Linked DNA regions of Homo sapiens: region 1 is linked to region 2. Evidence: fine-mapped expression QTL. Tissue or cell type: blood mononuclear cells. Region 2 holds a variant in brackets; the other region holds the start of a gene. All regions are shown on one strand. Distances are between the middles of the regions. Region 1 holds the start of GAS2 (growth arrest specific 2). Region 2 holds the start of FANCF (FA complementation group F).

Region 1 (16,588 bases), 42 kb before region 2:
TGTAATACCTGTTTTGGAAACAAAAGAGCAATTGCTTTTTATACAGACTTCTCTCACAAAATGTTGTCATCATGACATTATAATGAACTGGATCCGCGGGTTTTCTGATGACAGTTCAGTTTATTAATTATTAACCCCATGAAACACTATTTGCTTTATCTGTACTGGCCCTCTCACTTTTGGCCAAACACTTAGTAGGAAAACAGCAGCAATCAAAGGTCAAATAGAAAATCAAACAAGAAACTCCAAGTTTGTATGAAACAATATACTTGGAAAGAGCCAGCTTCTAAGCAAGAAATTCCACATATTGAAACACGAGAAAAAGTTAAAATGTTAGTGCCCAATTTGTTAACTCCCATTGTTTGGGCTATTTAAAACCATAGATTTTCACCAAATTTTATGACTGAACACTGGCAATGACAGCATTTTTACAACTCACTGTAAACACATGATCATTACCCTTAAAAATATAGCCTAAAAGGTTAAGCAAAGTACTTCTTTTTTGGAGACGGCCAAGCAATCATGGACTCACAATTTAGAGAACTGGGTGAGAAGCAGGGGAAGAGGTACACCCAAAGACTCTCTACCACACTTCTCTCTTGCAGTCAAAGAAACCAAAAAAAGAAAAATAAAAAAAAAAAATAAAAAAATAGAGGATAAGTGACTTCACCAAGATCATACAGCTAGGTCATGACAGAACTAGGCTTGAACCTGAGTCTTCATATTCCCAAGACCACTACTCTTTCTGTAATGACACATTTTTACAAAATGGAATAGCCAAGAACCCATATTGATGATAACCCAAGCACTGCATCATAGTTCTAACAAATGCTGCCAGAGGTGTTTGTTTGTCCTCTGCTATTGCTACAACAATCTCTTTCTCTTTCTTGTTTTTTATCTTTCCACTTTATTTGTTTTACATGCTGCGTTTTGTTTGAAAGTATCTTTAGAGTAGAAGTACTTAAATATCTTACATCTATAAAAACAAGGATGCTTTCATTAACCTGATCATATTGTGAGCAGTGCAATCCCCTACTTGGGTTGTAGAAAAGGTATTTGAATATATATTTGGCCTTGAATATGGCATTTTTGTTTGTTTGTTTTGTATTTTTTAGTAGAGATGGGGTTTCGCCATGTTGGCCAGGCTGGTCTTTAACTCCTGACCTCAAGTGATCCACCTGCCTCGGCCTCCCAAAATGCTGGGATTACAGGCGTTGAGCCACCATGCCCGGACAGAATATAGCACTTTTGTATGCATTATTTATAGGATGTAAGACTACGGAAGAACTAATGAAGCAGTTAATGTAATAGTCATGTTTAATAACATGCAGGATTCTACGCTGTATATAAATATGCTTATGAAATAACCAGATGCATTATGACTGTATGACAATGAAAATGAAAATACTTGCAATAGGCAAGAGGTAATGTTTATATGATATCATGAGGTTTTCAGTGATATTGCAGTATTTATGGCATTTTAAAGTTACCAATAAGTAATATATTCTCCTTTTGGTTTTATTATTTGAAACTCTACACAGTATTCCTTTCCAGTTAACCTCAAACTCTAATTCACTTAACATAAGTTAATTTATTTTAAATATTGCTTTTGAAGAACAAATAAGACACTGGTGTTTAGAAAAATGCAAAGTGGGAGCATCTCTCAAATATTTTGCTGTAGTAATAGAAAAGACTGTTGGGAGTATGAGTAAGTACCTAAAAGGTATCATAAATATAGTATTTAAAAGCACAATTTCATTTCTAATTAAATTACTGTCGAGTAATTTTTGAAAAAAATACCATAAATTTTCTCTGAAAACATCTTATATATATCTATCTAAAGTCAACCATTGAAAATGTGAACTGCTTTCAATACACCTTGTCATACATTATTAGATTGTCATTATGGGAATCAGAACACCACTTTTTATTATTTCATAGTTAATAATGATGTTATCCATATAAAGTCCTAAAGTTTTCTCCAAATTCTGTGATTAAACATGAAAAACCCAAAGCATTTTCTGCCCCAGTTAAAAAAAAAATATGTCTAGTCCTAGAAAAACAAAACTTCTCCCTGTAGCTGGTTAAGATTCCTATATGCCTGCTGGCCTCAGAAACATTTAAGTAATACATATAAGCACATGATTCATATACTTAAATAACTAATTGAAATCTTAAAAGGGTTACCTCTAAAATGCCTGTCTTCTCAAGACACAATCTCTTCCACTACTTTCCTGAAAGTGAGATGTGGCTGTTCAGTAACTTTACCTACACCCTATTATGTGCTCTGTGACTTCCATTTAAGCATCAGAGTCCTATTTTGCTCTATAAAAGCAAGAAGACACCTCAGATTCTTAAGCTCATTGTCCAGCAAATAATTTATCAAGGGATAGTTTACAGTAAGCCTAATGGCATGTAACAATTTCAATGAGCCAGAAGGACACAATCCTTTCCCTCAAAACCTCTAAACAGTGAAGTTTTTATTTTCTTTGACAGTGGCACATTTATTTCTCATGTACTCTGTCCTGTGTTTTGCCAGAAAAGTAACTCAAACTACCTTCTAATAATTAGAGATGAACATTAAGTAAAAACAATAAGAATAATTAAGCAATTTTTATTTTGTTACTTTGTATACAGTCAAAATTTTAGTGGTGAGAAAAAAGCAAAAACACAGTTACATTTCCCCAGGAGACAGAGGTGAGAGAAAGAAGGCTTAGTGAGTAATTAACATGCAATAGAAGTTACACAATTAGACATATGTCAAATATGTAGAAACCTAAAGTCACTGTCATAGATAAGGACTCTTCTGTTTAAGCCCCTTCTTAAAAGAATTCAGATTCTCAATCCAATTTCTCATGATCCTTTTTTTCACATTTCAAATCACTGCCAAACTTAAATGACTCAACGGTTTGGCTGAAAGTCAATACCTGCAGGTCTTGGATTTAGATTTGGCTAATCCATGAATACGAAACATGAAAAATGGATTCAGCTAGCATGATCAAAATTTGGAGTATGGAGAATTTACCCCATGGTGAAGTAGTTTCCAACTAAAATGATTATATTGTGGTGAAGAAAGATCAAATTAATTTATCTTATTCCCATAAAAAGATCACTATGGAATTTTACCCTCCTTGTAACTTTTTAAAGAAGTGTTTAGTCAATATGGATCAGATGAATTACATCGTAAAGAACAAGCTACACAAAAAGATCATTTCAGTTCTCTTGAATTCATTCAAAAGTGTTCAAAACCACAAGAGATGCCAAGGGGTAACTTTTTAAAAAGGTGGGAAATAAAGTGACTGATGATCCACTAGACTTGAAGAAAGCAGTAGGTTAGGGAGAAAGAAAAACTTTTTTGTATAATGTGCCTAAACACTGAATGATGTTTCCAATAAAGTGTATATAGTCCAAGTATTTTAAAAGCTTGATAAGTAACTTTAGTAACTATTAAACAAAGCCAATCACTTTTAAAAGGGGAGTAAGTACTCAAATACTTCTATGGCTCCTCCAAGCTTTCTCGGTCTACCTAAAATGGATAACCAACCCTTAGGTCTAGGAATCCAGAAAAATAAAACTTCAAGAGAAAAACATGCAGAAACTTAATACTAAATCCTTCAAAGACTGTGTGTGTATATATTTTTTCTTTCTTTCCATAGTAGAAGTGATTCTGGAATAACAATTATGAATATGATGAGACTTGAAATAGCCCAGGAGAAAAAGAAAAAAATAATGACTTTGTAAGTAAAATATCACATGTTTAAAGACTCTGTCTAGTTTGTTGTCCCAGAATCCCAGCTGAAGACATCATAGTTTTGACTCTGAAGAAAAAGTATTCTTCCATGCCACCTAGAGGTGTTCTTTGACTATGACCAAGATGATTTCTGGCTTATCTCTAGGCTTTGCTGACATGTTAGAGAAAATGCATTGCAACATTACATAGAAAAGCAACTGGAAAGACAAAAAACATGAAATGATATACACTTCTGTCGGCTATGAGATTTCACTTAGAAGCCTGAATAATGGATAGAATATTGGAACTGGAATCAGAAGTCCAGGGTCAAATAATAGGTCCACTACCTAACCATTTAGTAGCTACTCTATTCTAGTCATATGAATTTTCCTCTTTGTACCTGTGTTTTCTACTATATACAACGGAGGCTGAAAACTTAAAGATAATTGTGAGGATTAAATATTTGTGCCAATGCTTGGCATATATTTAATATTCGATATGTTTTTTATTAGCAAAATAGAAATGATCACCATCAGAAATGTGCCAAAATAAAACTTCTATTGACCTATCCCAAAACGGAAAGCAATTCTGTGACAAAATAGGAATATTTTATAGAACTCTAAATAATTAAGAAAAGACAAAGGACAACGGGGAGAACAAATAAATGTATTAATGATACAGTAGATAATGGATTATTCCAAGTTTTCTTCATATGGAGAAGAATGCTGCCCCTAAGATGATGATTAATCAGTTAATAGGGAAATGCTATATACCTCTCAAAGTAAGTGTGAGAGGACATCACTACCACCACCCCATCTACACACACAGACTCAACTGTGAACATTGAAAACAATGAATCCTAATCAACCCACAGTCAAAGGTCTCCTCCCTAAAGGTAATCTTTGCTGTCATCTGCAGCATTGTTCCCCACATCTATTCAGTTTCATGTGTTACAGGTGTCAAACACTGAGGAAATAGTTTATTGGTCAATCACGTTACCTTTTAAAATTAAAAATAAACAGTGCTCCAAATCGAATACCCTTCCAAAATCTGGAAAGAGAAAATGCCATTTTCCTAGCTGAACTCAAAGAATAAACCACCCAGGAAAGTTCTAGATATCTCTTTCATCATTGTGAGTTCTTCACTCTTTTGTGATTCATTTTGGCTAATTAATAGTATCTCACAAAATATACATTTTCAACCAATGTCATGGATACAAAATCTTACTCTAAAGGTCTAATCAGAAAATAAAGTCCACAATTTCAACAGAAAGGCAATTTCAGACCTCGTAATGGGACCTCCACCTTGGGTTCAGTAGAGCAACTTATCCACAAATTGAAAAGCACCAAACATAAAGCAAAATGACACTTAATGGTAGTTTATCTAATTCCATAATAAAAATCTTTAAATTGAAAGGAACCTTACAATAACGATATATTCAAACTCCTCGTAATTAATAAGGGGTTGGTAGCCTAAGAGGATATTTTGCCCACAGTAACAAGACTGTTTAGTCATAATTATTAAAAGTATCCTACTCAGCTCTTGTGATCCTTAATTTAGTGTAGTGCTGACTCTCTTTTAGAGATCTCTTTCTTATCCCACAGTCCCATCTTGATTTGTCTTGGGTGAAATGATGGTGTAGTTACAAATAACAATTTCTTCTCAAATCATGATTTAAAAAAACCTGAATGGGAATTGATTTTCTATATTTTCATGTTGTTAGGGATATTTTAAAGTTTTAAAGAAATCATACTAAAACATCCTTCCAAACAATTTAGCATAGGTTTTTTTAACCCCTACCAGATTAGCTTGGAACATAATTAAAATAGAAAACCATCTGACAGTCTAATGACAGTCTAATGACTATTGTTAACAATATTAACAACTAGAATATTTAAGGATTTACATCAAAATTTTATCTAAGTTGAGAAAATTCTTTTCTGTTGTTTTAATATAAAGATTTCTGTTTTAGTTAACTATAATGTAGTTAAGAACCAGCAGGGTTCTACATTCTGTGGAAATATATACACATATGTGACATGGTCTCACATAAAGGAGTAAAATTAGCAAAGTTTTAATTGTATTGATGCTGAAAACATTTAATACAGAAACTTACATAAGCCTCTTACTTAATTTTGACAGCAGATTATTTTCTACTGTTACTCCAGTTCATTTCTCTAGTCAAAAAACATTGAGTGGAAACCTTCCTAGTTGCTCAGGTTTAAAGAAACAGTTGGATCCTGTTTGGACCTTAATATCAAAACCACAAAGATACCAAACCAACCTTACAACATGCCCTGCAGTTTTAAACAAAAGTCTCTCTGTAAACAGTTACAGCCTCATCATGCCTTCTCAACCAAGGTAACTTAGTTTTCCAAAGTTTCCCTGAGTCTTCAATGCAGACTTCCAGTCTTGAAGTAAGATTTCTAAGTAACACACAACATACTTAGGGTTAATATAAGACCAGGTATTTCACCATACTCGAAAGTTTGAGGTTTAACTGAAGTTTCTAACCAAGATGCTAAAAAATTCCAGGGCAATCACATGACCTTTTGCACCTGGTGAAATATTTTTTTGCCATGTGAACTTATTTCCCAGTAAAGCACAGTCCATAACACCACAGCATAGTGTTTAGCAATAAAGTAATGAAATAAACCCAAACTTCAGTAGCATTCAGGCTGAAATCCAAGCTACCTTTTCCATGTAAGGGACCATTCAGGCAGCCCTGTGCAAAGTCTCCAATGTGCTTTGCAAAGGCACACTGTCCCATGCCTCATCCATCTGTCCCTTACCTTCTCTTAGGCAGTCAAAACCCAGACACCCATGTTGGAGAGAACCACCAGAGCCACCACCTTCACCGCAGTTAGAGGAAAGCATTCCTTGAGAAGGAGTTCATTGATCAATATCAAAGACAGGCTGGGCAAATCAGACCCCAGCTGCAGTTAATCAGTGTCCACACTGCTAAGAGTTTGGAGTAAAGAAGCACAGGTCTTGTTCTCTGCCTTGCCTCTGTGAATCTCAGGGGATACGTGGGGAGGAAAAGTGGACTTCCTCTGCCAGGCTGGTACATCCAAACTGTCTAAGCCTTTATTTTAATACTAGGATGTCAAATGGGTGTTCCTGTGCACAAGCAGATCTTATTTCCTTGGCATAAGATCTCTCATACACAACTGATCTAACCTTGTTGGAGAGGGTTGGAGGAGATAATTTTATAAGAATAAAGTTTTGCAAACTCTTCACTGTAAGAAGATCACGGAGGTGAGAGGATGAAGATGAAGAAGATGGAGAGGGTAAAGACTGTGATTTCAAAAAGGTTAACTGGGAAAAGAATTAACAACCCTCCCCCAACCTCAATTGTTTTTAGAATGTAGAAACAGAATCTGTTAACCCTCGCTTTTGCTCCCTCTTCATTCAAGACAATGGAAACTTCTTCGGATACCTGGGCTAAGTTAATGGTAATTTACCATACTGAGTTGACAGAATTTAATTTTGCCAGTATAAATAATGTCTCCAAAGCAAAATTGCCTCCTTTGTTCCCCAAACAATTTCAGATTCCAGTCTCAACTTTGGACTGAACAAAAAGAACGATACCACGCAAAATCTCCCCAAAGTGTGTTGATATATATCGGCTAGCGTTTGTTTATTCACATAAAACTCAATTTCATCAAACTCATCAGACACAGTGAGTATCACCCCAGATCACACATGTGGCGCTCTTTCCTCCCATCCTGGCCTCAACGACTCAAGTAAAACATTCAGGATCAGCCCTTTAAGACCATTCTGGCTCTATCCCACCCCACCATAACAGACAATGCTGAGCATGCATTACAGATACTCTTGTGCACGAATGCATATGTGTGCATTTATAATCGATGTGTTCATTAAAAATCCTCACTCTGTCCCTGGTTGGCAGAGCCACCCCAGCGGGCTTACGTGCTGCGGTTGTCCGGGGTGTTCCGCAATAGGGATAAGGAACACATGGTTGTTTCCAGAGAATCAGAAAGTCACCCCCTGCAGTGAATACCCACTCTTAGAGAAAGAGCCTGTCCAACTGTCCGCGGCTCTTCACTCTTCCCCGCCTCGTTCCTGAGGTTATTTTTTAATGACCTCTCCCCTCCCCCGCCGCCCCGGGTGCAGTAGACAGGCAGGGGCTCCCGTGAGCCCCGGCTGCGGTGCGCGCACGCTGCGGCGGCGTTGGCGCAGAACTGGGCCAGCCAGTCGTGCTCACCCCCGCGTCCCGAGCTGGGCTGCTGGCGGCTCTCAGAGGCGCTTGGGCTCCGGGCTGGGCTCCTGCAGCTTCTCGGGGCCGGCCCCCTCCAGGCACAGGTCCTGCAGCAGCCGCTCCCCGCACCCCACCAGCCTGGCGGCAGCGGCAGCAGCTACAGCCGCACTACCCCTCTTCATACTTCTCTGATGGCTCCTTTTAGTGCTGTTTGGGAAAACGATTTTTTCTCCCTGCCAGAAACAGATTTCCTACATTTCATCAGTCCTCATAGACCGAGCGGAAGTAAAATGCTTACTTTTTTTGGTGGACGCAAATGCAGTTGACACTGATTTACCCTTCAAACGGGGAGAGATTGTATTACAAGCCCTTGGCAGCAATTCCGAGGTTGGGGCCAAGCTCCAGCCCCCTCCTTGTCCCCCAGACACTAACCTAAGAGAGAAAAGGTGGGGGCTGGGGAGGGGATCATATTTAACTCTAGAGGTTTAACAGAGTCAATAGCTTTAGCACAATATTAAAATTGGGTGTTGGAAAAGTTTTTGCTTTCCTGGCCAGTGATTTTGCAGACGGAGGCACGAGCTTTCCAGTAACTTCGGCCACTCTTCATTCCAAATTGAACATTTTGATGTCTTACAATTCTCTTTAAATATCAGATTTTTAGAAGAGGCTGTACTCACGGCTGTTTTTGCTTTACCAAAGGAAATACAATTCCACCCTTCCTTCTTTCAGCCTCAGCTCAGCATTATGTTGAATGTCAGAGACAATTGTCTCCAACTGTTGTTTATTAGTACGTGTATTCTGAGATGAAACGTCTTCCATGAAGTGGACAGATGTTCAAGTGTCTGATTCACCTCTAATGCGCGGGGACCGCTTGCTGAGTGTGCTGATCCCCACAGGTTACCACCTCCCATGGAGCATAAATAAAATGTATTACACTTTTTATTTTGTTTTGTTCTCATGTTCATCAGTTTCATGTATATTGCCATCCAATGTTTACAATGGCAGTGGTACAGGTATTGTGATCCTTGCTTGGATACCATTTTTATAATGATGAGTTACCTAGCCCCACTCCCAAATAGAAACTACCTGTACATCCACAAGCTAAATGATGTGGATGATTTTAGATATAATTTAAAAAATATTCACATTTCACCTTTATTATTGCCATTATCTGGCAGAAACTGCATCAGTTATTTGCTTCTAGTGGCAATACATTTAATAAAGAAGAAGAGAAAACCGATTGAAAAGTTTGGAGTCCTTGAACTCCGAACTTTTTATTTTAGTTCAATTTGCTTTTGCAGCTATCAGGTCCACATTTCCTCCTTAGCTTTCTAAAAGAAGGGAAAAATAGTTATTCTTAATTTTAAGGAGAAACAGCATTTTTAAAAGGTCAACATAACAGCTTGGATAAACATAAATAACAACAAAACATACAGAACTCATTACTGATGAGTTTTAGTAAACGAATCTGAATGATAAAATTTCTTAAAATGTGATCAGATCTGAGTATTCCTAGAGCCCCAACAAAGAATTTTGAGTGTCTGAACACATACAATTTAGTAAAAAATCAAATGTTCTTGATAATTTTTCCTGATCAAAACATCATCAGCCAATAAATGCTAATTTAAGAATTATCCAAATATGTAATGAGTTCAAAAAATTTAGCACCTTGAACTTTCAAAATCTTACATCCTATTTCTCCCCAGATATGAATATTCTTGTCACATTGTTCATTATTGGTGTTATAAAAAGCTAAGAGTAAGGCAATGTTTTTGTTGATTCAGGAACAATGCTAAATACAGTTTGGGGAAAAAAAGGAGGCTTACAGAGGAATTGGGAAAGCATAATCATTCAAAATTACTCCCTCTCCATGCTCATTTCTTCCAGGTATTTTTTTTTTTGTCTTAAATTTTGCATTATGTCAGATCCTCTGTCTCTCAGAAAGAGCGAAAAGAAAAATACGAGAAGAAATAAATAATGTGTTTTTTCTTTCATTAACATCTAAGAGTTGTACTGAATATTTTTTTTGGTGACAAAAGAGAAGTAATACAAAAGATTTCTGAAGAGACACGGATACAGTGTTTTTATTTTAATTTTTTTAGCATATGTAAAAATTCCCATTTGATTTTTATCTTGTTTTTCAAAATCAATATTTCTATTTATATATTCTGATCACTCACTGATATATTTGTCAAAGATAATCTTTTGTCTAAGTATTTTCTTAGTTTAGTGTGGACTCAACCCAAACTGTTCACCTTAGGAAAATGTAGTCCAACTGAAGCAACTATAGCTTCTCTAATGTGAATGCAAAGGAAGCAAATACTTCAATAAGATGAAAAATGTTTAAATACATCCTTGAAACTTAACACCATTAAAAAGAAGTCAAGCCAGATTTAAACAGTTTAGTTTTTATTTTCAAGTGATCACAGTTAGAGGACTTTAACACGGGAAATTTCTGCATTACTATGTGTGTCCCACATTCTAAACTTTCAACATTGTCTCAAACATGAATTTTCTCATTTCTCTAATAAATACTTTTTTGAGTTTAAAAATGATCAATAAAACACGTTATTTTTCCCTCCTATGTAGATAACTCTCCTTTTCTCTCTTAGTCCTTCTCCCAAATGAAAATAATATATGTAGTACTCACTCTGAAAAGTGAAGCAAACCTTCAATAAATGATTGAGGTTAGAGGACACTTTGAGAAAAAATTAAATAACACGGAAACAGCCACTGGGTTAAATTTGGTAAAATAAATTTCCAGAAGTGACCAAGAAAGACTTATATTCCTAAACAGCTTCAAAGGAGCAGTTAAAAATGACAAAAGACAGCTTGGGAAGCAAGTGAGAATAATGATACAGAAAGCAGTATGAAGACATGCAATGGTATTAAAAAATACATGAAGACATATATTTAATAATAACTTAAATCATTTACTTACATTTTGTTGACATACTTCCTCAGTGAGGTCAAATATGTTTATTTTTCCCAACCTAGCATCTTAGTCTATAATATAAGGCCTTCAATTGACATATTTTGAATTATAGTTTTTTAATGTCATAAGGCAAAGAGAATAAATTTTATAAATCCTAGCATAGTCATTACAAATAGTGTTACGAATAAAAACAGACTGTTTCTGAAATTTTAAACGATAAATGCTATTACTTTTCACCACCATTCATATATAAAACTACAAGGATAAATCAAAGAAATTTCATATGTAAAGTTCAAGGTTTACTCTCCATCTAATATGCAATTTAAAAAATCTATTACTTTACTCTCAGTGGAGAACTTTAAACTTTTTAAGTACAACACAACAGTAGCATAAATATTAATTCCCTCCTGTGCAAGACTCATTTTTTTCTGGCAAATTGTGTTAGGTATAAGCATATGTTTTCTAATTTTTACATAAGAAATAGATTAAAAATCATTTTGTGAAATATGCCATTTGTCTTATCTACTTTTATTCATTTATTTTTTATTTTTTTATTTTTTTTTTTGAGAAGGGCTATTGCAGTGGCGTTGCCATGGCTTACTGCAGCCTTGACCTTCAGGCTCTAGCTATCCTCCCATCTCAGTGTCACGGTAGGTGGGACCACAAGTGAGCACCACTGATATGGTTTGGCTCTATGTCCCCATTCAAATTTCATCTAGAATTGTAATCCCCAAATGTTGAGAGAGGGACCTGGTGGGAGGTGACTGGATCATGGGGTCCGTTTCCCGCATGCTGTTCTCATGATAGTGAGGGAGTTCTCACAAGACCTAATGGTTTTAAAAGGGTGGCACTTCCCCTCTCTCTTTCTCTCTCTCCTGCTGCCATGTAAGACATGCCGTGCTGCCCCTTTGCCTTTCCCCATGATTGTAAGTTTCCTGAGGCCTCCCCAGCCATGCAGAACTGTGAGTCAATTAAACCTCTTTTCTTTATAAATGACCCAGTCTCAGGTAGTTCTTTATAGCACAGTGAAAACAGACTAACACAGCCACCAACTGTGGCTAATTTTTTATTTTTATTTTTTTTTTTTTTGCAGAGACACGGTCCCACTATGTTGCCCAGGGACACAGTCCCACTATGTTGCCCAGGCTAGTCTCAAACTCCTGGCCTCACATGATGCCCTACCCCAACCCTCCAAAGTTTCTGGGTTAGAGGCATGAGCCACCACACCCTGCCTCATCTAGTTTTAAATATCCTATGCAGTACCTTCTGTGGTGTGACGTCTGTTGTCTAAGTTGAAGGTGTTTTTTTTTTAAGTTTTCTTTCTTTCTTTATCTTGTAGTTTGCTTCTAAATCTTAAAAAAGTCTATGTCATGTTACTTTAATCACAAGTACCTCAAGTATAATATAAATGTTTAATGTAAAATATGTTTATTTCAACAACCTTTCTTGTCTTTTCCACCACTACATCTCTGGCATGTAGAATATCATTAGACATATAGTAGACACTCAATAATTGTTGAAAGAAATGAATGATTATTTTAGAAGCTGGTGTCTTAGAAAATATACAACTAATTGGTTATATCTTTATATATTGTCTCTAATTTAATAGTTTAGAATCCAGAATAGAAAAGCAATGTTAAAATAACATTACAAATGATAGTTTCACTCCCAAGCTAGCAGCATTTCATCTGGTAAAATGTAACTAGAGTTCACTAAAACAGATGCTTGCCTGTGTGCCAGGCTTATAAATGAGGTCAGTCTGTGTCACTTGTCACTTCATTAAAAACCTAGGTTCATTTGGACTCAAGGTTTAATCATAGCCAATATAACAAGAGTGCAATGAAAAGCAATAGAAAATATTACTACTGCAGTGGCTTTCAAATTTTTATTGTGACCCACAATATGAAATACATTATGGAACAGACACATAGAACACTTAGACACAAATAAACTAAGTATGTTTCACAAAAACATTACGTACTTTACTATTATATTGCACTCTGATATTTTTCTACTTGACATTATTATAGTCTCTTCTATGCTATTCAATTTTAAAGAAATGCTATTAGAGAGCTGCTAAATTTGTTTTATGACCTACAGTTTTAAAAAAATCTGACTGTAAAGAAACTAAACTAAGGGGAAAATCAATAAAAAGTGAGGTAAGGTCTCAATTAACAGATGGTTTCATTACAAAGTATGAAACAGATATGTTTATATATTGTTATTGGTAGACTTGATGCAATGTAATGTCACAACATCCCAAACATCTTATACCGTTACACCTCCATGCCTTTCCTCATGCTAACCAAAATGATCTTTTACCTTCACTGTCTCCCTCTGAAGAAATCTGATTCACTCTTCTAGGGAAAGCTTAATTGTCACCTTCTTTGTGGTTCTCTTGATCTCTCTGGTAGAGATATTTTTTGTGACTCTATGTCCAGTGCTCTGAGCACTTTGCTATTTCTTTTATTTCTCACTTATAATGTAGTATCACAGTTATTTGTTTATGCATCTATCTCACTTACCAAATTGTGAGTCCTAGAGAGTAGGGACTAGACTATTCATCCTTATATTTCAAATCTTTATCACAATACCAAGCCTAAGGTTGCCAAATAATTGAGTAAATAAATAAATAAATAAATAAATCATAAAACCACTGCATATCCAAGGGAGGAAAAAGTGGGTGCCATTGGGTGATAGACGGGATTCAGCAAGAACTGTGCTCATCAAAGGAAAATTAAATGGAGATCCCTCTGTAAAGACAATACCAGTTATTAATTTTGCATCTTTATTACTAGCACAATTTACTTATAAGTGAGATTTTAGTATCACATTTCTTGGGATTCTCTTGCAGTTAGATATTGCTCCAGTTATTCATTGATTTTTAAGTACACTAATAATTTCAAATTTAGGATTACTTTGTTGAAGAATGAGAGGTTTGCTGAAACTTCCATTATTGTAACTATAACACAGTTCACAAATACGGAATATTTTCCAACTGTTGATTTATACAAAGCACTTAAAGATATGACACTTAAAATGATCTCATTAAAGCATTTTGGTAGTTCCAAATAATGGATCAGGAAGCATCCTATAAAAGGGCAGTACTCCAAGCCCAAAGTGAGAGAACTGCCTGGGAATAGGGTCAGTGTCAGTGGGGCTTTTCTTAGCATAAAGGAATATTGCCATTCTGCTATGATCACAGTAGTCACTTAGTCTCTAGAGTCATTTGCAAAGAAGTTTCGCCAGCCATCATCCCCACAGAGGCTGTCAAGGAATAGGCATAGTAAATTTGTAATATCGTAGTCACTACATTTAGCAGAGTAATCTGGAGTCCAGATTTGGTCACAGACGAAATCAGGCAGGGTCCACTTCCAGCTTCTTTGCTTGTTTGCTAAAAGTTACAGGCAAATTATTTTACCTTTCAACTATCAGTTTTCACATCTGTAAAGTGGGATTAACAAATACCACTCTCTCATAGGCATGTCTTGAGAGTTATATAAGTTAATACATGTAAAATAGTTTACTGTTTGGCATATAGCAAGTTTTAAATGAATGTTAGGTATGTTATTGTTAAGTGAGTACCTAAATATTCTTATTGACTCATTACAACAATTCCCTAAGATAAAGATATTAGCAGCATTAAAAATACAAACGTTCAGAGAATCTTATACATCCCTTCTCTGAGTCTTCCCCTCCTCGCTTCCTAACATTCCATTTTACTCTCTTTAGACATCCAGTGGCTTCATGGTTTGTTGGGTCACTCATTCATTTATTCTCCAACCTCTTCTGTGTTAGGCACTTGTATCAAAATGAAGTCACATTCCCTGCTTTCCGGGAGCTCATTCCAATAGCAAAAATGGTTTTTAAAAAGCTTACCTAATGACACACATCTATTAAGCAGCATAGGTAAGATTTAAACTCATGCCTGAGTCTGACTGATTTGAACATATGCTCATTTCCCAACACAAATGGGAAGCAACTTCAAGCAACTTATTTGAAGCAACAGAGCTTTCCTTTCCTTCCCTTCCCTCCTTCTTCCCTCCCTCCCTCCCTTCCTCCCTCCCTTCCTCCCTCCCTTCCTTCCTTCCTCCCTCCATTTTTTCCTTTCTCTCTTCTCTCTTTTCCTTCCTTTCTTCCTTCTATCCTTGCTTTTTTCTTTCTTTATAAGGAGGTGTCAGGAGTCTATATATCATTTTTAAAAATGTCTTAGATAAAAACTAGAAAGATTTTATATTTAAAAGTTAAAATGTGATAATAAAATTATTTGAGAAAAAAAATCATTTTTGAAAAGAAATAAGTTTCTGTCAGGTATCCTAATTCCAAGCCAGATGAGCTGCCCCATGTGGTGAAGATTCCACATCACAGAGAATTAAGTCAAATACCTCACAGAAGTATGAGAAGGAACTCATGAAAAGAATACCGAAGAAGGCTTTTGAGGAAAAACTTTTAACCAGGAAAAGTCAAGAGAAGGTTTCAAATCCTACACAGAAATAATCTCTTTTCTTTTGGATCTGGTATCAGTCGAGGATAGATGGGGGTCAGGGAAGATGTCTTTTTAACTAGCTCCCAAGCCTAAGCGGGCTGAATAGCCAGGAGACTGAAAGTGCCTCTTAAAGGGGAGGGGTTGCATTTTTATTTTTAATAATAAGCTGACTAGGAATTGAGTCAAACAAATTTGACTTCAAAATAAAATGCAGAATAAGAACATACCAATCAAGATTCAGAGTTGGATTAGATTATCAGAGCTAATAGTAAAAGATCTTCCCTACCTATACCACCTAGTTTCACACATTAATCGCCTCTGGAAACACCATCATGGACATACCCAAAATAAAACTTGAACAGGTTTCTAAGTATTCCTTAATCCAGTCACATTGACACATGTAAAACTAAGTTCACACATCTACTCCTTGTCAATTTAGCAACCATATGCATCTCCTTAAAACTATACTTAATTTCCAAAAAGAGGCAATAACAAAATCATACTTATGCCTAACATGATACTACTAACATGATGCAACTATGCTGCATACAACCAAAAACACACTAATCTCATCCCCACAATTGGGCTTTCGTAATTTCAACATTCAGATTTATGGCATTTAGAATTGCATCTTTCAGGATTATGATCCAAACTCCTATGGCAGAATCAATAAATGAGAGGAGAGGAGATAAAAGTCAGGGAGATCTTTCGAGTGGTTATTCTTTTCTCTTTTCTTCACACTCTTTCTTCTCAGTATGCCCATGTTCTAAAAAAGCAGGTGAATTATGTGAGCATTCAATCCTACTCTACAAAACTACATCATTCGTGTTCATTATTTAAAATTATGATTTAGATTTTATTATGACTTGCTGATAGATGGATATGTGGTGTGAGAAACAGACAAGGAAACCCCCTAGATTTTTTTTGGATAAGCAGTTACAAAAATTATGCTGCCATTTAATGAAGTGGGAAAGATGGGAAGAAGTTGTTTTGCTTTGTTTTGTTTTGTCTCATGTTCAGTGGAATGAAAATCAGGGTTTTAGTCCTAGACAAGTTAATTTTGAGATACCTATCTGATATCTAGAGGGATCTATTGTGTGGTCAGTGGGCACAGGAAGAGGGTAAATCCAAGTTAATTGAGTCTTTTAAAAGCAAAGGCCAGGCACAGTGGCTCACACCTGTAATCCCAACACTTTGGGAAGCTGAGGCGGGCAG
Region 2 (16,588 bases):
CAAAGATTCCACTGACTCTCCAGCGATGGATCCAAACTAAGATGAAATCTTTAAAATACCAGATAAAGAGTTCAAGAGGTTGATTATTAAGTTCCTCAAGGAAATACAAGAAAAAGGTGAAAAACAACACAATAAAATGTAAAAGAAAATCAGGTTATGAATGAAAGATTTCCTAAACAGATTGATATTTTAAAGAAAAAAAAAATCAGAACTCTGGAAACAAAAGACACATTTAGGGAATTACGAAATGCAGGGAAAAGTTTTAACATTAGACTAGACCATGTGGAATAAAGAATTCCAGAACTTGAAAACAAGGTTTTTGAATTAACCCAATCACACAAAAATAAAAAAAAAAAGAATGAAAAGAAACGAATAAAATCTCTAAGAAACATGGGATTATGTAAAAGGGCCAACCTAAGAATTATTGATGCTCCTGAGTGGGAAGAAAAAGCAAAAAGTTTTGAAAACTTATTTATTTGAGGGAATAATTAAGGAAAACTTCCCTGGCTTTGCCAGCAATTTAGATATTCAAATACAAAAACCTCAAACAACTCCTGGGAAATGCATTGCAAAAAGGCCAACACCAAGAGCTAAAGTCATCAGGCTATCTAAAATCAATGTGAAGAAAAGAATTCCAAGAGCAGTGTGAAAAAAGCATCAGGTAACCTACAAGGTAAAACCTTTTAGACTAACAGCAGACTTCTCAGCAGAAGCCTTATAAGCCAGAAAGGGCTATGGTCCTATTTTAGCCTCCTTAAACAGAATAACTATCAGCCAACAATTTTGTATCCAGTAAAGCTAAGTTTCATAAATGAAGGAAAAATAAACTGTTTCTCAGACAAGCAAATGCTAAGGGAATATGTCACTGTTTGACTATTAGCTAGTTTAACCAAGAAAAGAAGAGAGAAGATCCAAATAAGCTAAATTAGAAATGAAAATGGAGATGTTACAACCAACCCCAAAGAAATAAAAAATATCCTTCAAGACTACGAAGAACACCTCTTTGCAAACAAACTAGAAAATCTAGAGAAAATGAATACATTTCTTGAAACACACAACCCTCCTAGATTGAATCATGAAGACATAAAAATCCTGAATAAGCCAATCATAAGCAGTGAGATTGAATCAGTAATACAAAATTTGTCAAAAAAAAAAAAAAAAAAAAAGTCCAGGGCCAGATGGATTCACAGCCAAATTTTACGAGACATTCAGAGAACTGGTAACAATCCTACTGAAACTATTGCAAAAGATTGAGAAAGAGGGAATCCTCCCTATATCATATGAAGACAGTATCACCCTGAAACCAAAGCCAGGAAAAGACATAACAAAAAGGAAAATTACAGACCAATATCTCTGATGAACAGATAAAAAAAAAATTCAACAAAATACTAGCAAACTGAATCCAACAGCACATCAAAAAGATAATTCATCATGATCAAGTGGTATTCATCCCAGGGATGAATCAATGGCTCAACATATGCAAGTCAAAAAATGTGGTTCATCACACAAACAGAATTAAAGCAATAGCCATATGATTATCTCAATAGATGCAGATAAAGCAATCAATAAAATCCAGCATCCCTTTATGACATAAACCTCAACAAACTAAGCACAGAGGAAACATACCTCAAAATAATAAAAGCCATATATAACAAACCCAAAGCCAACATTCATGTTGAAGCATTCCCCCTAAGAATTGGAACGAGACAAAGATGTCCACTTTCATCACTTCTATTCAACACAGCATCGGAAGTCCTAGCCAGAGCACTCAAGCAAGAGAAATAATAAATAAATAAAGGGTACCCAAATTGGAAAAAAAGGAGTCAAACTATCTCTGTTTGCTGATGATGCGATAATATACCTAGGAAACCCCAAAGACTTCTCCAAAAGACTCCTAGATTTGATAAATGAATTTAGTAAAGTCTCAAGTTCCAAACACAATGTACACTGCTTTACACCAATAGTGTCCAAGCTGAGAATAAAATCAAGAACTCAATCCCTTTTACAGTAGCTGCAGAAAAATAAATCACCTAGGAATTTACTTAACAAAGAAGAGGAAAGATCTCTACAAGGAGAACTACAAAACACTGCTGAAAGATATCATAGATGACACAAACAAATGGAAATACACCTCATGCTCATGGCCTGGAAGAATCAATATTATGATAATGACCATACTGCCCAAAGCAATACACAGATTCAATGCAGTTCCTATTAAAATACTAACATTATCTTTCACAGAATTAGAACAAGCAATCATAAAATTCATATGGAACCAAAAAAACAGCCAAAGCAATCCTAAGCAAAAAGAACAAATCTAGAGGCATCACATTACTCAACATCAAATTCTACAAGGTTATAGTAAGCAAAGCAGCATGACACTGGTATAAAAGTAGATATATAGACCAATGGAAGAGAATAGAGAACTCAGAAATAAAGCCAAATACTTACAATCAACTGATCTTTGACAAAGCATACAAAAACATAAATTGGCAAAAGGACACCTTATTTAATGGTGTGGGGAGTTCTTTGTAGATTCTGGATATTAGCCCTTTGTCAGATGAGTAGACTGCAAAAATTTTCTCCCCTTCTACAGGTTGCCTGTTCACTCTGGATGGTAGTTTCTTTTGCTGTGCAGAAGCTCCTTAGTTTAAGTAGATCCCATTTGTCAATTTTGGCTTTTGTTGCCATTGTTTTTGGTGTTTTAGACATGAAGTTCTTGCCCATGCCTATGTCCTGAATGGTATTTGTAGGGACACGGATGAAGCTGGAAACCATCATTCTCAGCAAACTAGCGCAAGAACAAAAAACCAAACATCACATGTTCTCACTCATAGGTGGGAACTGAACAATGAGAACACTTGGACACAGGAAGGGGAACATCACACACCAGGGCCTGTTGTGGGGTGGGGGAAGGGTCAAGGGAAAGCATTAGGAGATATACCTAATGTAAATGATGAGTTAATGGGTGCAGCACACCAACATGGCACATGTATACATATGTAACAAACCTGCACATTGTGCACATGTACCCTAGAGCTTACAGTATAATAAAAAAAAATGGTGTGAGGAAAACTGGATAGCCCTATGTAGAAGAATGAAACTGGATCCCTATCTCTCATCATTTAAGAAAAATCAACTCAAGATGTATTAAAGACATAAATTTAAGACCTGAAACCATAAAAATTCTAGACGAAAACTTAGGAAAAACTCTTCTGGACACTGACCGAGGCAAAGATTCATGACTAAGACCCCAAAAGCAAATGCAACAAAAACAAAAATAAATAAGTGAGACTTAATTAAACTAAAAAGCTTCTGCATAGCAAATGAAATATTCATCAGAGCAAACAGACAACTCACAGAATGGGAGAAAATATTTGCAAAATATACATCAGATAAAGGACAAATATCTAGAATCTACAAGGAACTCACAGAAACCAGCAAGAAAAAAAAACCAATAATCCCATTAAGAAGTGAGCAAATGACATGAATACACATTTCTCAAGAGAAGATACAGAAATGGCCAACAAATGTATGAAAAAATACTCAACATCCCTAATTATCAGGGAAATGCAAATTAAAACCACAATGGGATACCACCTTACCCCAGCCAGAATGGTCATTATTAAAAAGTCAAAGAACAATAGATGTTGGCATGGATGTAGTGAAAAGGGAATGCTTATACACTGTTGGTGGGAATCCAAACCAGTACAGCCTCTATGGAAAAGGATACTACCTTACCCTGGCCAGAATGGTCATTATTAAAAAGTCAAAAAACAATAGATGCTGGCACGGATGTGGTGAAAAGGCAATGCTTATACACTGTTGGTGGGAATGCAAACCAGTATAACCTCTATGGAAAACAGTATGGAGACGTCTCAAAGAACTAAATGTAGAGCTACATTTGATCCAGCAATCCCACTACTGAGTATCTACCCCAAAGAAAAGAAGTCATTATATCAGAAAGACACTTGCATGTATATGTTTATCACAGCATAATTCACAATTGCAAAGATACGGAACCAACATAAGGGCCCATCAATTGAAAAGTGGATAAAAAAGTTATATATATATATACACACATGCATACATACATACACACACACACACACATACCATGGAATACTACTCAGCCATAAAAAGAATGAAATAATATATTTTGCAGCCACTTGGGTGGAACTGGAGGCCATTATTCTAAGTGAAGTAACTCAGGAATGGAAAACCTAACACTGCATGTTCTCACTTGGAAGTGGGAGCTAAGCTATGGGTATGCAAAGGCAGACAGAGTGGTATAATGGACACTGGAAACTTGGAAGCAGGGGAGGTGGGATGGGGTGAGGGATAAAAATCTACATGTTGGGTACAACGTACACTACTCAGTTAGAGGGTGAACTAAAATCTCAGGCTTCACCACACTGAAATTCATCCAAGTAACCAAAATCCACTTGTACCCTTAAAGCTATTGAAATAAAAAAAAAATTCTGTTAAAGCAATGAAAAGACGACAAGAAAGTTTTATGAGCTACAATATTTGAAAACTTCACCAAAGAACAGAAAAAAATCAAAATAAATAAATAAAAATAAAATCTGCTGAAATTTGGCCTTTTTCTTTCCCAATTTACTGTATCCCAGGAATTTGGGGATCAAAACCAAGAGGAGGGAGATTGTTCCTGGTATTCATGGCACACAGTACACACATTTGTGTTCTCATATATTTTACCTTATATTATTTCTCTCACTTGGATTTTCTTCTGTCCCATGATTGTTCAAACACTTTGAGGCCTAAATCAAGTATCAGTCCTCTGTAGTCTTCCCAGAACTCTCCTGTCAGTTTCTATCTAGTCTCTCATAGCAAAATTCTTAAAATTTTCAAAATATATAAAATCTGCTTTGCATTATAATTAAGTTTTTGTATCCCTCCCCACCCTGCCTCAAGAATATAGGTTGAAATGCTAGGCTTTTCTTTCTTTAGAGGGGGAAACTTCATAGACATTTTATTTAATGAAAATAGACTAATCTGAAATATGTAGGAGTTTATACGTTACTATGCTCAAGGAAGAATTTAAAATCAAGATTTAAACAGATAAGTAGAAAGGTATGAAGCTAAAGTTAATCTGCATAATTCTTGCCATACACTGTCATCCCCATTCTGAATCAAAGCTTTTTTGGATTTTTTCCACCTCCTTAAATAGGCCTGGTTCTTTCAACTCAGATACCTGCAAAAAAAATTAAGGATTCCTGTAGCCTTGAAGGCTCCTCTGAACACTCAGCTTTGAACTTTCAACTGAAAAGTTGGTTTCTTTTCCTTTTTTTTTCCATTTTCCTTTTTTTTTTTTTTTGAGATGGAGTCTTGCTGTGTCACCCAGGCAGGAGTGCAGTGGCCCGATCTCAGCTCACTGTAACCTTCACCTCCCGGGTTCAAGCTATTCTCCTGCCTTAACCTCCCGATTAGCTAGGATCACAGGTGTGCACCGCCATGCCCAGCTAATTTTTTTGTTTGTTTGTTTAGTAGAGACAGAGTTTTGCCATATTGGCCAGGCTGGTCTGGAACTCCTGACCCCAGGTAATCCACCCGCCTGGCCTCAGCCCCACAAAGTGCTGGGATTACAGGCATAAGCCACTGCCTCCGGCCTGAAAAGTCAGTAATTAAAGAGACCTTCCTATCCCCTAAGACTTGGTGACCCCACTCAATTTCATCCTACTATCACATTTGAGGTTATTCATTTAATGTCTCTCTTAAATGGTACAAGATGAACTTCTCCACTCATGCTAGGACTGCATTTATTTTACTACTAAATCTGTAGCACCTCATACTATGTATCATAATAGGTGTTAAATATAAGAATAAATAAATGAATTAGTGATGCCTGTACATTTGCTAAAGGCAGGCTGCACACTTGGTTCTAAGTTTGTAGTAGCCAAGAAAAAGAATTTTAAGATTCATAGTATCCTTAGGATAAAATAAAATAACGATTTCAGGACCAAGTAAGAGTTTGAGATAACTAATAAAAATCAAATAATAGCCGGGCGCGGTGGCACACGCCTCTAATCCCAGCACTTTGGGAGGCCGAGGCGGGAGGATCACTTGAGGTCAGAAGTTCGAGACCAGCCTGACCAATAAGGTGAAATCCCATCTCTACTAAAAATACAAAAATTGGCCGCGCCTGGGCGACAGAATGAGACTCCGTTTCAAAATAAATAAATAAATGCATAAATCTGAATTAACAGCATGCACATCACTGCTTTACTTTCTAAAAGGTGTAGGAATGCTTATTTTAATAAATGAAAAATGACTCTTCCCCTCTTTTAAATTTGTTTCTCTTCCCCTTTTTGTTAAAGTACAAAACAAAACACCTTCCCCCACTTTTCGAATAGTTTTGGCTGTGTCTTTAGGACTGGAAGGAAATTCAGCTCAAATGAATTACTATATTATGAACTTAAGTAAGAATTGTTGTGCATTTTGTACAGAATGCAACTCCTAGGAGTTGACAAATGTTTGTTAAGTGCATCAGTGAGCGACATAGGACCTTCTCCTCCCTACTCTCTTGTCACGGTTTTTATTTAATCAAACATTTATTATTGTTCGATGCTCTTAAATGCCATTTCCTTCAGCTGATTATTTGTATGACAGAAGAGTCAATTAAGCTATTTTGTCCTAAAAATTACGAAAACGAAATGTACAATTGTGAAGTAAAATTTTGTTCCTTTGCAAATTTTAATAAATTATTGAAGTTTATTTTTTGTTTCAAATAATCTGGGCTTCAGTTCTAATAATGGAAGGACAATGTGAAGGCCCAGAATTCAGCATAGCGCCTGGCATTAATAGGAGGTCAGTACATTTTTAGTACATGTTTCTCAAATAGATCTTAAAATTTCATTTAAGAGCGTTTCCTCACGTCACAGTATGTCTCTGGCGTTACTTAATTTTGAAAAACCTCAACACAGATTCTAGTTTTAGGCAAAGCTCAGAAAATTTCTACTTAAGGATATTTCCAAAGCGAAAGGAAGCGCGGAGACGTTCATGACTGGCATCATCTCGCACGTGGTTCCGGAAATTCTCGGTAGGATGCCCTACATCTGCTCTCCCTCCACTAAGAAGAACCTCTTTGTGTGGCGAAAGTAAAAGTATTAGGGCTTTTAAGTTGCCCAGAGTCAAGGAACACGGATAAAGACGCTGGGAGATTGACATGCATTTCGACCAATAGCATTGCAGAGAGGCGTATCATTTCGCGGATGTTCCAATCAGTACGCAGAGAGTCGCCGTCTCCAAGGTGAAAGCGGAAGTAGGGCCTTCGCGCACCTCATGGAATCCCTTCTGCAGCACCTGGATCGCTTTTCCGAGCTTCTGGCGGTCTCAAGCACTACCTACGTCAGCACCTGGGACCCCGCCACCGTGCGCCGGGCCTTGCAGTGGGCGCGCTACCTGCGCCACATCCATCGGCGCTTTGGTCGGCATGGCCCCATTCGCACGGCTCTGGAGCGGCGGCTGCACAACCAGTGGAGGCAAGAGGGCGGCTTTGGGCGGGGTCCAGTTCCGGGATTAGCGAACTTCCAGGCCCTCGGTCACTGTGACGTCCTGCTCTCTCTGCGCCTGCTGGAGAACCGGGCCCTCGGGGATGCAGCTCGTTACCACCTGGTGCAGCAACTCTTTCCCGGCCCGGGCGTCCGGGACGCCGATGAGGAGACACTCCAAGAGAGCCTGGCCCGCCTTGCCCGCCGGCGGTCTGCGGTGCACATGCTGCGCTTCAATGGCTATAGAGAGAACCCAAATCTCCAGGAGGACTCTCTGATGAAGACCCAGGCGGAGCTGCTGCTGGAGCGTCTGCAGGAGGTGGGGAAGGCCGAAGCGGAGCGTCCCGCCAGGTTTCTCAGCAGCCTGTGGGAGCGCTTGCCTCAGAACAACTTCCTGAAGGTGATAGCGGTGGCGCTGTTGCAGCCGCCTTTGTCTCGTCGGCCCCAAGAAGAGTTGGAACCCGGCATCCACAAATCACCTGGAGAGGGGAGCCAAGTGCTAGTCCACTGGCTTCTGGGGAATTCGGAAGTCTTTGCTGCCTTTTGTCGCGCCCTCCCAGCCGGGCTTTTGACTTTAGTGACTAGCCGCCACCCAGCGCTGTCTCCTGTCTATCTGGGTCTGCTAACAGACTGGGGTCAACGTTTGCACTATGACCTTCAGAAAGGCATTTGGGTTGGAACTGAGTCCCAAGATGTGCCCTGGGAGGAGTTGCACAATAGGTTTCAAAGCCTCTGTCAGGCCCCTCCACCTCTGAAAGATAAAGTTCTAACTGCCCTGGAGACCTGTAAAGCGCAGGATGGAGATTTTGAAGTACCTGGTCTTAGCATCTGGACAGACCTCTTATTAGCTCTTCGTAGTGGTGCATTTAGGAAAAGACAAGTTTTGGGTCTCAGCGCAGGCCTCAGTTCTGTATAGGCAATGCTGTGTTATTACTTGAATATAGAATATATAGTTTACAAAATGAAAATTACAATGTTCTCACCAAATATATGCCTTCGTGTGTCCAAAGTATAATTATTTTAGATGCTAATTTTGAATAGTTTATTAAACAGTTATAAATATGCAAAGTAGCTGGCATGTAGTGTCACGGATTTTCTGGATAGAGGAAGTGATTGGAAGTA[C/T]TCCACTTAAAGCCATGGAATTAGCAATAGTTTGCTTTTTAATAGAAGGCCCATTTGTAAGAATGTTGAAAATATGTGTACCGTTTAAAGAAAAAGCAGCTTTAAAGTGACAAACAAAATACCCTTTTTCTTTTAGTATGGTTTATTTTTCTAGGTTTTCTGTCCCTCCCTCAGTAGTGAAGAGTTTTCTTTATTCCTGGCAGTGTCAGGAATATTGGTTTGAAAAGCTGTTGGCCTATCTGGAGTTTGGCCTTGTTAACCTAGTATTCTAACCAGTTAACCAGCCTTAGTATGCATTAAAATTGTATTGTTCAGAAAGTTTGTTTCTCATTTTCTGCAAATTCTTACTTTGAAAATGAATCACCACATAGTATGTCCCTTTAAAGCATTGACGCACAGACAAATGTTTAAAGCACAGTAAATACGAATATATGCCTTTGGATATTAAATTAATGCTTGATGATAAAAGAATCAAACTTTTTTTTTTTTGAGATGGAGTCTCGCTCTGTCACCCAGACTGGAGTGCAGTGGTGTGATCACTGCTCAGTGCAACCTCTGCCTCCCAGGATCAAGCAATTCTGACTCAGCCTCCCAAGTAGCTGGGATTACAGGCGCAGGCCACCATGCCCGGCTAATTTTTTGTATTTTTAGTAGAGACGGGGTTTCACCATGCTGGCCAGGCTGGTCTCAAACACCTGACCTTGTGATCCGTCCGCCTTGGCCTCCCAAAGTGCTGGGATTACAGGCGTGAGCCACCGCGCCTGGCCAAAACAACATTTTAAGTAGAAGATCCAGGTTTTAGTGCAGCTTCTGCCGTTAACTAGGTTAATAAATCACAACCTTGGGGCCACAGTTGCCTTATATGTAAATGAAGTGTTTAGAATAAAATAGTTAAATTTCCTTATTTTTCCCTTGGTGGCTGCCCTGTGGAAACAGTTTAGAATATTTGTTTTGTGTGTAGGAACCTAGTTGTGTTAGTTTACCTGGGTGTTCCACAGCTGATAGTGATTGCCTTGAATAAATTCAAGGGCAATTTATTCATTTTTACTAGGGAGATAGACCTTTACAGCAATCAAGATATTTTTGTCCATATCCAGGTTAGCTGGTAAGAGGATTTTTTTGGAGAAAAAAATGATATTTAGAAAGTTAATTTCTAATTCCGGAATGGAATAAAAACAATATGAGTAGTGTAATCTTGTAGAAAAAGAGTTGTATAATCTTGTAGAATTTCTCATTCTGTGGTACAACCCAGGGGTAAACTATTATTCCAGTAGTCAGTACACTTTTCTAGATAAATCTTGAGTGAAAACCAGCAATTTCTTTTTCCTTGTGGTCTGATTCCTTTTTCTAATCCATGAAGGCCATCTTGTAGATTACATTTATCATTAATGCAAGAATAAAGACAATTCCTCCTGTCAGTTGCGTGAATTTTTTTTAAGAAACAACCCAGTGAAGAGTTCTACCATAGCAAGGCCTAATGTTAGCTTTAGCTTTAGAAAATAACAGTTTGTGAACTTACTTCCCTATATTTGCAGCTGTATCTCACACTATGATTTACAATAAAATTGTAAAGATTGACAATAGACTTAAGAAATAACATTTTAAAATCTATTTTATACTTACCATTTATTATTCTGTTATTTTAGTCTCCATATGTTCATTACATACATAATCTTATTTAATCTTCACACCAAAACTGTATTCTTATGAATATACGCTAAAAGATTAAGTAAAATGCCCAAGGGTATAAACAAAAGCAACATGAAAGTGGAAGCCGTATCTGTCATTTATTTTATTTCCAGAAGCCTAGCACAGTGTCCAGCATATGGTAGATACTTGTAGTGTTTGAATAAATGAAACCAGCATTAGAGCTTTATATACTTTCTCTTAAGGACTTGAAAAGATTAGGAATCTACGCATACACTGAGAGAGAAAAAAGTGAGAGGAAGACTATAAAAATAGAATATTTGATAACTTCTTTATAAAATCTAGAGATATTTATTTTGTGTTTTTTCCCTATGTCCTATCAAATGAGGGAGCACTATTGAAATCTCCCATTGTAACATTGTTTCAGGAAATTTTATCAATTATCATCTTATGTATTTTGAGCAATTTTATGACATGCAAACAAATATAGAATCGTTATATCATCTTAATGAATTGAACCTTTTGTTTGTAGTGACTGCTTTTCTGCTTTAAAGTCTATTTTTTTCTATTATCATTGTCATATATTAACACTGTATGATTGGACTTTTTCCTGCTATCCTATTTTGTGCTTTCCACTTCCTTTGATTTCTCTATGTTTCACTTCTCAGTTCTTTAATTGACTAAATATTTGTTTGTCTTCTTATTTCATGATATTTTCCCCTCTACCAGTTAGGATGTTAATTCTATACCCATGCTTTTACTCTCAAAACTTACCATATTTAACTTAAAAATATCTAATATTAGTATCTTAACCCTCCTTCTTAATGATACTATGGACCTTAGGAAACTTTAACCCTGATCTCTTATCTATAAACTCTCAAGTTATTATCCAGTGTTTTGGTTTAACAATTTTGTTTCCCATGATTGTACCTCAAATTCCCTTGGAGAAGGTCTCTTGGTGGTAAACTCAGTTTTTATTTACTAAGATCGTTCCTTGTTGTTGTTGGAAGGTAGTTTTGCTGTGTTCCTGATTTCAGGTTAACATGTTAAAGATATTAACTCTTTTCTGGTTTTCATTGTTGATAAGAAAGCTATTCGTCTACTTGTGGTTATTTTGTAGAGTGATTTCTTCTTTCTGTTTATTTTAAGGTGGTCCCGATTTCAGTATCTATAGTCACTTCAGAATATCTAATTGTAAATTTCTGTTTTTCTTGCTTGTTTTATGTTGTGTTTCATTTATGTGTGGATATGTGTTTTTCTTCATTCTGAAAAATTTCCAGCCATTTTTCCCCAATATTTCCTTTCTTCCACTTTTTAAAAATCATTCCTGTCACTTTGATCGGGCCTATATTAGATCTTAGATCTTCTCACACTACTCATATCATGTAACCGCTCTGTCCCAGTTTCTATCTCCATATCATTCTATTTTGCTTTGGAAATTGCTGTTATATCCCAAGATCAATATTCCCCATCTTCATTTTAGCCTACCACCAGGTTTTAGCTGAAAATGGCCACCCAGATAGAGAGTAAATTTCCCAATTTCTCCTACAGTTACATGTGGCGATAATGCTAGGTTTTGGTTACTTTTATATAAGCAGAAGTGATATGTACAACTTAATATTCATTCCCTAGAAATCTGAAGTTATTTGCCCTTAATACTCTGCTTCTCCCTTTTAATGGGCTAGAAAGTTAATTTGCTGCTAGTTTGCTGCTACCTTGAATCATATGGCTGAAGATGACTGGGACAATTGCTGTAGACCCAAAGATGAAGTCACATGTACAGAATGGCAAAACAGAGCCCACCTACCTAGCTTGTCCTGTTAATATAGGAGAGGAATACACCTTTCTCTTATGAACACTGCTCGGGATGTCTTATGTCATCAACATTGCCTATAACCCTAAGTAGTATTGGTATAGTCTTGATAATTCTGTCTGATCTGAGGTTTAAGCTATCAATTGGTTTTAAATTTCAGTGATTTTTAAAAAGTCTTATTTGGCTTTTTTTCTCCTAATATGCCTGTTTACCTTTTAGTAATCTCATATGGCATGCTTTTTGTGATTCTGTTTTCATTTTTTATCATTGTTATTTTATCATCTATTAATTATTTCACAACCTGAAGTATTGAGGATCTAAACCTATTCTGTTGATTCTCACTCATGACGGCTTATTTCTTTACATCTTTTGTAATTTCCTATTGTGTGTTCACATGTGTTTGGTTATACTCTATGTAAACCTAGGAGTCTAAATAGGGTATTCTTTGCCCAATGAGGGCATTTTTAAATGCTTCTGCTGGAGAAATAGAGAACCCCCCCTAACCTAGGACTACTTTGGTTTATTGTAAGAGTTTTGGCTTGAGTTTTTCTACCTTATGTCTTGCTCAAAGCATATTTTCTGAATCTTACTTGCTTACTACTCAGATCTCCCTGTTTTGGAGAAACAGATATGAAGGGGTGGCTTGGAAATTTCCTTTATTTTCTGAAATCCCAACAAAACATTCAAAGAATGTTATATTGAGAATCTATTTGTTTTGTAGCAGCTGGGCCCTGTGGAATATCTAGTTATTGATTTGCTAAAAGTGGAAGTCCTCTTTCCCTTTAACCCACACCAACCTAACTTCTGCCATCAACACTTCTCTGAAATAAGTCTTGTCAAGCTCACCAATCACCTGCATGATGCTAAATTCAAAGGACACTGTATTAGTCCATTTTTACACTGCTATAAAGAACTTCCCAAGACAGGGTAATTTGTAAAGGAAAGAGGTTTAATTGACTTACAGTTCCACATGGCCTGGCAGGCCTCAGGAAATTTACAATCATGGCGGAAGGTGAAGAAGAAGCAAGTACCTTCCTTACAAGGCTGTAGGAGAGAGAGAGAGAGAGAGAGAGAGAGAAGGAGGAAGTGGCACACTTTTAACTCATCAGGTCTCACGAGAACTCACTATCATGAGAACTCCCTACCACAAGAACAGCATGGGGAAAACTGTCCCCACAATCTGATCACCTCCCACCAGGTCCCTCCCTCAACACGTGGGGATTACAATTCAAGATGAGATTTGGGTGGGGACACAGAGCCAAACCATATCAGACACTTTTCTGGTATTCAGTTACTTGACTCTCAGCAGCATTAAATACCATGGCCTATCCCCTCTTTTTTGAAACTGGGCTTGGAATTCTATTCTTATAACTTATATGATACCACTCTATTCTAGTTTCCTCTTACCTCTCCAGCAATGTTTTCAGAGTCTATTTTTCTGGCTCCTCTTCTCCTAATCATCCTTTAAATATTCACGATTTCTCAGTGTTTAATAACTCTGCTGCCTCTTTTGTGTAGTGCTCTCACCCCGTGTGATCTCATCCATTTCTGTGGCGTTAAATACTACCTATATGCTATGAATTTCACAATTTATATCTTTAGTCTGGAGGTCTCATCATAGCTTCAGGACCAATATCCCCACTTGAATGTCTCACAAGCCTCTCAAACCAAACATCCAAACCAACTCTAAATATCAGGAAGAGGGTGGAGCAAGATGGCCGAACAGAAACCAATCATTCCCTTGCCTCCCCAGCAAGGACACTGAGTTAACATATGTACACAGAAAAAACATCTTCATAGCAACCAAAAATCAGGTGAGAACTCATAGTATCTGGTATTAACTACATATTGCCAAAAGAGGTACTGAAGTGATTAAAAAACAGTCCTGAATCACAAATGCCACCCCTTCCTCACCCCAGGCAGCAGCAGCCTCTGAGCACTGGGGGAGGGAGAACACAGCAATTGTAAAGCAGTGAACTCAGTGCTGTCCTGTTACAGCAGAAAGGAAAACTGGACCACACTCATCCTTCCCACAGAGGGAGAATTTAAACCAGCCCTAGTGGGAACCTGAATTCCTGCAACTCTCACCACCATGGGCTAGAGGCTACGGCACTCTGTGTCTCCAAGTAAACTTGAAAGGCAATCTAGGCCATAAACTCTTAGGCAAGTCCTTGTGTTGAGTTAGGCCCATAGACAATGGACTGGAAGGGCACACGGCATACAGATAAACCAGCTGGGGCAGCCAAGGGAGTTCTGTCGTCACTCCTCCCCTAACCTCAGGTGGCACAGCTCATGACTCCAAAAGAGACCCTTCCCTTTCACTTGAGGAGAAGAGAGGGAAGAGTGGGGAGGACTTTGTTTTGCCTGTAGGATCCCAGCCCAGCCACAACAGAATAAGGGACTGGTCAGAGTAGTGAGGCCCCTGTTCCAGACACTACCTCCCAGGTGACATTTCTAGATACACTCTGGGCCAGAAGGGAATGGAACCTGCTGCCTTGAAGGAAAGGACCCACTACTGGCAGCATTTATCACCTGCTAACTGAAGAGCCCTTGGGCCCTGAATAACCAACAGTGATACCCAGGCACTATATCAAGGGCCTTGGTGAGCCTCTGAGATTTGCTGGCTTCAGGTGAGACTCTGTACATAACCAGCAATGGTGGCTAGGGGGCAAAAATCTTCTACTTAAGAAAAGCTGAGGGAAAAGTAAAGGGGACCTTTTTTCCCACATGTTGGGTACCAGCAAGGGGAGGAAGGGACTAAGTGTGATCCTGAGGTCTTTGATTCTAGGACTTGACTCTTGGATGAATTTTTGGACCTGCCCTGGGCCAGAGGGAAGCTCACTGCTCTGAAGGACGAGTCCCAGGCCAGGCAGTATTCACAACACACTTAAGAGACTTTGGGCCTTAAGGGAATATCGAGAGTAGTCTGCCAGTACTCCTCATGGCCTGGGGTGGCAGTGGCTGTGGGATGAGGCTTCTCTGCCCTTAGAAAGGGGAGGGGAGAGTGGTAAGGACTGCCTTGTGTGGCTTGAATGCCAGCTCAGCTGCAATACTTTAGAACACTAAATAGGCTCCTAAAGTTTTTGATTTTCGTCCCCGACTCCCAAATGGCACTTCTGGACCCACCCAGCGCTTGGGACACCTTGCTGCACTGAAGGGACGGACACAGGCCTGGCTGGCTTTACCATCTGCTGAATGTAGTACCCCAGGGCATTGAGCAAACACAGGCAGTAGACAGGGAGTGGTTTTAGCAGGCCTTGGGTGAGACCTAGTGCTGTGCTGGCTTCAGGTCTAACCTTCTGCAGTCATGGTGGTGGACACAGAGGTGTTTGTGTCACTCTATCCCCAGGTTTAGGTGGCTCAGAAAAGAGAGAGAGAAAGAGAGACCCTGTATATTTAGGAGAAAGTAAGGGAAGGAAACAAGAGCCTTTGCCTGGTAATCCAGATAACTCTCCTGGATCTCATCCAAAACCATCAAGGCAGCACCTGTATGAGTCTACAAGAATCACAACATTGCTGGGATTGAGGTGCCCACTAACGCAGATATAGTTTAGATCACAAACCCAAGTCCTTTTAAATATCTGAATAGCCTTCCCAAGAAGGACAGCTAAAAATAAGCCCAGACAGTGAAGACTACAATAAATACCTAACTCATCAATGCCCGGACACCAAAGAACATCGGCTAGCCTCAACAGCATGTAGGAAAACATGATCTTACTAAATGAACTAAATAAGGCACCAAGGATCAATTCTGGAGAAATAGAGATATGTGACCTTTCAGACAGAGAATTCAAAATAGCTGTGTTGAGGAAACTCAAAGAAATTCAAGATAACACAGAGAAGGAATTCGGAATTCCAGCAGATAAATTTAACAAAGAGATTGAAATAATTAAAAAGAATCAGGCAGAAATTCTAGTGCTGAAAAATGCAATTAGTGTACTAAAGAATGTGTCAGAGTCCTTTAATAGCAGAATGATTCAAGCACAGAAAAGAATTGGTGAGCTTGAAGACAGGTTAATTGAAAATACACAGTCAGAGGAGACAAAAGAAAAAAGAATAAAAAGTAATGAAGCATGCTTACAGAATCTAGAAAATAGCCTCAAGGGGCAAATCTAAGAGTTATTGGCCTTAAAAAGGAGGTAGAGAAAGAGATGGGAGGAGAAAGTTTATTCAAAGGGATAAGAACAAAAAACTTCCCAAACCTAGAGAAAGATATCAATATCCAGCTATAAGAAGGTTATAGAACACCAAGTAGATTTAACCGAAAGAAGACTCAAGGCATTTAATGATAAAACTCTCAAAGGTCAAAGATAAAGCGTTCTAAAAGCAGCAAAATAAAAACAAATAATATACAACGGAGCTCCAATATGTCTGGCAGAAGACTTTTCATTAGAAACTTTACAAGCCAAAAGAGAGTGCCATGAAATATTTAAAGTGCTGAAGAAAAAAAAAAAAGGCTTTTACCCTGGAATAGTAAATCTGGTGAATATAGCTT

The links. PIP is the estimated chance that this variant, and not a neighbour inherited with it, causes the effect.
Region 1: it holds the start of GAS2, and the variant in region 2 is fine-mapped to the expression of GAS2 in blood mononuclear cells (TOPMed, PIP 0.98).

Annotation. Positions count from the first base shown.
Region 1 is chr11:22,658,270-22,674,857 of GRCh38, reverse strand. GAS2 (growth arrest specific 2) reads right to left here and starts at 8,247. Exons shown (of 8, transcript NM_001143830.3): 1 at 7,959-8,247; 2 at 1-8. RefSeq lists a silencer at 8,008-8,167.
Region 2 is chr11:22,616,525-22,633,112 of GRCh38, reverse strand. FANCF (FA complementation group F) reads left to right here and starts at 7,290. Exons shown (of 1, transcript NM_022725.4): 1 at 7,290-10,580. The coding sequence starts at 7,303. The coding sequence ends at 8,427. It also overlaps a transcript of GAS2 not described here. RefSeq lists enhancers at 7,311-7,500, 6,827-7,726, 7,591-7,800, 8,181-8,230, 8,241-8,400. The variant C/T (reference allele first, on the strand shown) is at 8,634.